Homo sapiens: one gene and its partner. The gene in region 1 interacts genetically with each later gene. Each region holds a gene or a part of one and is shown on either strand. Other genes may lie near its edges.

Region 1 (3,823 bases):
GAGGAAGAGAAAAACCCCTGAAACATAATGAATGTGACTCAGTAGATATAATCATTAATCTCATTGTTAACCTAAATGACATAATAATTTCCTTGAATGTTTACCACGTTGGGTTAAATGTGAATGAAGAAACTCAATACATTCAGGAATGAAGGGGAAAGATGACTTAGCCTTCTGGAGAAATTTTATTTTATTTAACAAATAGCAATACTTTGTTAGCCCTTTGCACATATATGACCATCAAAGGGATAATATATTTCAGGGCAGTACAAAAATAACACAATTATACTGTGTAGTCTTTTTCCATTTAAAAAATTCTTCACATAATTTACAATTCTTGAAGTTATTAGGTCTAGTCCAAAATGTTTTAAGCATGAAAATGCATCCTGGATTGTATACATTTCAAAAATGTAGCAGAGAGGCAACTTCCTAATTTCTCTTTTTTATCTAAAGTAATGGCATAGTGGTAGACATAGTAAGTTTTTTCTTTTTAAGATAAAAATAACCCTGATAAATATTAAGGGATTTTGAAAATATGTTGTTTTTTCCGGCAGCAGTGACTTCAAGCCTGTTATCCCAGCATTTTCAGAGGCTGAGGCCGGTGGATTGCTTGAGCCCGGGAGTTCAAGACAAGCCTGGGCAATATGGCAAAACCATGTCTTTACAAAACACAACAAAAATTAGCCAGGCATGGTGGCACATGCCTGCAGTCTCAGCTACTTGGGAGGATTAGGTGGGAGGATCACTTGAGCCCAGGAAGTCAAGGCTGCAGTGAGCCAAGATTGCGCCTCTGCACTCCAGCTTCAGCGCTGGAGGGAGACCCTGTCTCAAAGAAAAAAAAAAAAAAAGAAAGAAAGAAAAAAAGAAAATACCTTGTTTTAAAAATGAAAATTTACAATATTATTATCTAAAATCTCAACCAGAAACCTTTCTGTTTTAGATTACAAACCTAAAAAATCCTTAGTCAAGGTGGTATCAGCTCTAAAATGAATAAAGTTAAGATAAAATTATGATTTATACTTTTATGTTGTAAAATATATAGCTTTATCAGCTATAAAATTTATAGTATAAATTATAAAATCTGTCATTTGAGGATATGTTGGTGAAAAATTATTATTTGTAATTATTAATCCCTAGATTCAACAATTAGGCAGTCAAGCAAAATTTTGTTCCTCAATTGCTTTTCAATGTATAAACAAACCACAACAGTTACAACCTTTTGGAGCAAAGGTGAAGCAGGGAGTGGAAGGAATAACCCAGTTCCTTGTCGTTAAGTGTGTTTCTTGATAGCAATGTAAAAAGTCAACCAGATTAATAAAAATTTTGATTAATATAAGGTCGAATTTTTCTGAGAGGTAACTTTTAATGTTTTTTTTTTTTAACAGACCTGTATTTCTTTCATAAAAGACTTCTTGGCAAAAAATTTGATTATAGTTATTGGAATATCATTTGGACTGGCAGTTATTGAGGTACAGTATAATCTTGTATTATTGACTCTTTTATTCCCTTGCTTGTTCATTAATTTCAAGAAATATTGATGGTGAACAAACAAACAGAAAAAAAAAAACCACAACAACCATAAAAAACGCAGATGCTTTAGAAAAGCACTGGATGCTAAAGGCCCATCATCTCCCTCGATCAGCCTGAGTCTGAGGGGGAGATTCCAGTCTTATGAAGTGAGCAGGGTTGAGATTCTTGCTTCTGAATGACCTCTCTACCGGGAAAAAGATAGAATTAATTTTCACATAGTTCTTAGTGCCAGGTATATTTTTCCCACTGAAAACTAGCACAGGGGTTACAGTTTTCCAAAGTTAGAAGAAAAAGCACCAAACAAAGCAAAATACGACCTTTACAATTTCTTATTTCTCATCTTGATTTTGAAACAGAAAATAAAAACTGAACTCAAGAGTGTGAGGAGCTCTTTCTTTGTTACTTATTACATTCTAGAGAAATCCAAGAAGTTCTAAAAAGTAGAGGTAATTGTCTCTGATTTCCTCAGCTTAAGTACTATTGACTCACTTGGAGAAATTTTCAAGGAAAATTGAGGCTTATGTATTACTTTCATCACTTTAATTATTGATGTTGGAAAAATATCCCACATAGGATTTTTGTCTTGATGAACTTTCTTGGCATGTTTTTTTTTTAAAAAAAAAAAAAACCTGAAAGATACTTTTCACATGGCCTAAAAATCTTTGCCAAGAAAATGAATTAAAACTGCTTCAGAGAAGCATTTTGGAATCATCCCAGATCTTGGGTAATTTTAATATCAAGTAGATCAAATTCACTCACAATCCTATTCCAGGGCATTAGCAAGAATGTGAAGTGTCTCCCTGGTTAATGCCTGTGAGAGCTGGTTAGCTCAGCTGAGTGCCTTGTGCTTCACACTCATGGAATGCTGTGCAAGGTACTCCTTGGGCTTTCTGGTAATTTTCTACCTCTTACTCGTGCCACATCACTGCCAGAAAGAAATTTTAACTGGGAATGAAGCAATTTAGTGTCCTAAGTGGTTATTTAGTTTGCTGGTGGAATTTCCCAGGCAGCTATTAGAGAAAGGTTAGGGACTATTAGCAGCAAATTAAACTGTGGGTTATTACTTTCTTGTAGTCCAGATGAATAGGTATAAATATGAAGCATTCTTTGTTGGTAGGTTATGGCTGTCTTTCTTTAGGTCTGATATATGTTCAGAGTCAAATGGTGCTATGGATTAGGTCTATTTCTCTTGATTCTGCATTTTGTAAGATGTATTTTATTTCTCTGCTTTGTATTCTGGGTTTATGCTAATTTAGAAATAAGGACTAATGGCCATGAAGATGAGTAAGAAATGAATGATTTAAATGAATCAAGAGTGATTTTACATGAATGATTTAAGTGAATGAGAGAGCATGCTTTAAATGAGATATTTAATATAAGAGTTATATTTCATGTTAGACTCAAGTTCTGACAATTGACTATCACTAGCTCAAATCACAGATGCTCCTCAGTTAGCAAAACCAGAAAAAGTAAGGACATACTTGATTGGGGAGGTTGATGAAATCCTTTGTGTCATAGTCAAAGGCATTTTCAAGAATTTAAATACATCTAGTGGAAAATAAGATTACAAAAAGATTAATGTATTTCAGTATTTTATGAAATTGTTATATTCCATGTATTAATTACATGTTTAAATATTTTATTTGTTCTTCTAAAGACATATTCAGAGAAAAATAGCTTAATACAAACATTCTATACAGTAATTTATAGGTATGAAGTTTTTGCGTTACTATCATAAAACAGAACCGTTTTTGAATTCGAGAAGTCAAATTAATTGTGATTTCTAGACTCTCTGCAGATATGGTAAATAGTTGGTTCAAATAATTGTTTGAACTTTTTAAAATTGTTCAGTTCCTCAGTCTATAACCTGCCCTCCCTCTTTTTAAGGGAAACAAATCATTTTATATTCCATCTTCCTTTATTCAAAAAGTAGATTGGAAAAGTCTTCTGACACCCAGTCTATAAATTATGTATCCAAAAACAAAGCATTTTATAGCTCATCTTACAGTCATTAGTACAAGTTTCCTATTGCCCTATGACTTAGGCCTATCTCCCTTCTTTGTTTCCAAAGTTCAAATTCAAAAAAACACAAAGATACAGAAACAGAAAATCTCCTCTAAAAAATACTTTTAAGAAAACAGAAGCAAATGTCTTCCTGCAGAAAATATGTTCAGATTATCTCCACAGAAAAATATCATATAAAAAAAGACCGCCCCATATTTAGACCTTATGTTAGTATGTTTAGGCATAGGTTTTAGTGAGGTGGGCCAATATTTGTTTTCAAAGCTATGTT
Region 2 (3,569 bases), on another chromosome or scaffold:
TAAAAGGATTTTGAGATGGAGGAACACATATTTAATTCCCCTTTATGCCTTGGTTCTTGCTCCTCTTTCCACGTTGGATAACAATTTTTTGGTTGTTTTGTTTAAGTTGGTGCTCTGAAGCTTAATCTCAGTACCCTTTACTCTGAATTGTCAAATTTTGATAAAACGTGCCATTTTCTTTGGTAAGAGAAAGCAGGTCTTAATGTCTGCCAGAACACAATTTATATGCCTTATTGGCTTCATTAAACTTTTAGAAAACTTTAGCATTTGTTACTTTTTTCCATTGCGTTTACTTTCAAATGCACCTAATGAATTTGTCACCCAGTCGCAACTTTTCCCTTCTCTGTCCCATTGCTTTCTCCTTTCCCCGACGCACAGAATAAACATGAAGCTCAGCAGTAGAAGCGTAATGATTTCCCTCAGGAAAAACTTCTGACAGCTAGGTTTTTCAAGGGTTTCCCTGTGCTAGCTGAGATGCAAAACAAATCATGGAAGATTGCATACCTGTGTGGTATTTTAAAAACAAGTTGACTTTTTCAGTTTCTTGAACGGTTAAGGGTGGATTTAAAAACTAGACAGTTTAGTTTTGGGGAACAGAAGCTCTCTTCGTCTTAAGCCAGATTCTCTGATTCTTTTAGACGTCATAGCTCCTTAGTTCTGCTCCTGTCGCCCTAACTTGGCATGGGCAAGTTGAAGTTCATCCTTAGACTGCAGCGTTCTGAGCATGGCTGAAGTATTAAAATGTTTAATATTTTTTAGAGCAAAATTGTTGGAAAGCATTTGGCTGAATCTAAAGACCTGCAGTCAGATTCTTCAATGTGGTTTACCCAACTGGAGTAGTGATAAACACCTTAATCATAAAATGAATAAAAACAAAAAAACCATGGGGCTTGTCTGCAGTTTTGTTTTGGTCATCACATCTGAATAACTTTTTGATGCAATCAAATGAAGTTTAGGCTTTTAAAAAAGAATTAGCTTTCTAAATGTTTTTTTCTAAGGGCTACTGGAACTCATTAAACTCGAATAATTGTGGCTTTGGGCCTGAAGATTTCCATTCAACAGTGAAAACTGGCTAACTTCCTTTATAGTGAGAGGGATGGCCAACATCCAACCCAGAGGGCTAGTCAGCCTCAGAGGCCAGTGCAAGACGCCAAGAGATGATTTTGAAATGGGGCCATAAGTTTAGAAAATTATGAACAGAATGATTGAGTTTTTGGCCTGGCTACTACCTCTAGTGGTGACTACGTCAGCAGATTAATCTCATTGCATTTTACTTTATGTAGTATGTTGTAACCTGGTGCTTCATTCATTAGATTGGTGACTGAGGTATTTAGTCATGGTGAGGATGGGAATCTTCAGAGATACATTCTGGATTTGTGGAATAAAGTGACTAGAAAGGTTCTTCCAGAGCAACCCCTTGTTTAAAGTTATAAGTGTTTATGGTACCTGCTACCCCTTCTGGAAAGTTGTCGGCTTTGATGGTTTAGATGACCTTACCCCATAAGGCCAGCTTCTAGCCTCCCTTTGGAATATTTGAGGTGTGTGATGTTTTAGTGGGGGCAGCATTTGAGAGACGAGCAGGCCCGAGCACCCAGGCTGGCTGTCAGACCGTGTGTTGTGCTGTTGGGTTTGATGGGATGAGATATCCAGGGTTTTACTTCCTATAATGGGATCTGCAGGCTCCTTGTGAAGTTCAGTTAGACAGTAGCCTGTGACGTAGCAAGTCAAGTTTTCGATGGCCCCTCATTTTTTTTTTATTTAGTGCTTAAAAAAAAGATTTAAAACAGCAAAAATCAAGCCACACAGCAGCTTATAGTATATACAGGTCTTTTATACATTAGAAGTAATATGGTGAAATCTTTTTTTTTTTTTTTTTTTTTTGTGATGGAGTTTCACTCTCTCACCCAGGCTGGAGTGCAGTGGCACGATCTTGGCTCACCACAACCTCTGCCTCCTGGGTTCAAGCAATTTTCATGCCTCAGCCTCCCGAGTAGCTGGTATTACAGGTGCCTGCCACCACACCTGGCTATTTTTTGTATTTTTGTTAGATACGGGGTTTCAAATATGGTGAAATCTTGTGACAGAATAGTATTCCCTTGTACAGATAAGCCTTGATGCAGGTTACAGATTTTTTATAATTAGTAATGCAGCAGTGGAGTGTTTTCTTTTTCTTGTTTTTTGAGATGGAGTCTCTGTCGCTGGAGTGCGGTGGTGCGATCCCAGCTCACCGCAATCTCTGCCTCCCGGGTTCAAGCGATTCTCCTGCCTATAACTACAGGTGTGCGCCACCACGCCCAGCTAATTTAATTTTGAATTTTTAGTAGAGACGGGATTTCACCATGTTGGCCAGGCCAGTCTTGAATTCCTGACCTTAAGTGATCTGCCCGCCTTGGCCTCCCCAAGTGCTGGGATTACAGGCATGAGACACTGCGCCTGGCCTATGTTTTAAGTTTCTCTATGACAAATTTCTGTAGATGAACTATCTGGGTCAAAAAAATTCATCTATAAAATACTGATGGGTCTTGCCAAAGTACCTTCTGCAAGGTACCAGTTAATACTTCCATCAGAAAGTAAGAGCGCCTGTTCCCTTACATCGTAGCCAGTGTTGGGTATTTATACTTCCTTTGGCAGAAGTGACCTTTCAGTTTTAATCTGTTTTTTACCTGCTCGTATGAAGGAAGACTTTTTGCTTGATATCACGTGGGTTTGAATGCTGACTCTACTACCAGGTCTGGGAACCTAGGTAAGTTTGCCTCTCTGGGCTGTTTTCTCATCTGTGAAATAAATAGAAAACATAGAAAAATAAATTAAAAAATGTGAATGTTAGTGACTTGTGTTCCTTGGAAGTTGGATACATTTACATCTCCATTTATAATTCTCCCATCAGCAGAGCCCTGGAGAACTCTGGAATGTGGCTGATAGCTTATCTTAACATGCCATTGAAAAATTAGCCCTTTTTGGCTAGGCGTGGTGGCTCACGCCTGTAATCCCAGCACTGGGAGGCCAAGGCGGGCAGATCACGAGGTCACAAGAGATTGAGACCATCCTGGCCAACATGGTGAAACCCCATCTCTACTAAAAATACAAAAATTAGCTGGGCGTGGTGGTACGCACCTGTAGTCCCAGCTACTTGGGAGGCTGAGACAGGAGAATCACTTGAATCCGGGAGGTGGAGAGGTTGCGGTGAGCAAAGATTGCACCACTGCACTCCAGCCTGGCGACAGAGCAAGACTCCGTCTAAAAAAAAGAAAAAGAAAAATTAGCCCTTTCTTTTTTCTTTGAGACAGGGTTTTACTCTCTTGCCTAGGCTGGAGTGCTTTGGTGCGATCATAGCTCACTGCAGCCTCGATAGGTAACACACTAAGTGGTGAGTTTTCAGGGAAGGGGCTTGTTCACATGTAAGAGAGATTTTAATTTTTCAAACTGAAGTTGAATGCCCTCCTAGGAGATGCCACAGGCCGGCAAGTACAGGCTGCCTCACTTCACTAGTACTTAACCCTCAAGCAGGGAAGCTACTCCCCTTTAGCCCAAGTAGAGGGAGTATGGGGTGCTGGTGTGGTTGCTGTGCA

Evidence for each region.
Region 2: changes in TSPAN8 (region 1) and HAPSTR1 together harm fitness less than expected from each alone (positive genetic interaction), as found in Homo sapiens cells (one large-scale study listed by BioGRID).

What each region holds. Positions count from the first base shown.
Region 1 is NC_000012.12:71,126,977-71,130,799, reverse strand, and holds part of TSPAN8 (tetraspanin-8), read left to right. Parts: intron 1-1,385; coding exon 1,386-1,469; intron 1,470-3,823. UniProt on the Homo sapiens protein: Structural component of specialized membrane microdomains known as tetraspanin-enriched microdomains (TERMs), which act as platforms for receptor clustering and signaling.
Region 2 is NC_000016.10:9,118,815-9,122,383, forward strand, and holds the end of HAPSTR1 (HUWE1-associated protein modifying stress responses 1), read left to right. Parts: 3' UTR 1-2,821; downstream 2,822-3,569. UniProt on the Homo sapiens protein: Acts as a central player within a network of stress response pathways promoting cellular adaptability. The E3 ligase HUWE1 assists HAPSTR1 in controlling stress signaling and in turn, HUWE1 feeds back to promote the degradation of HAPSTR1.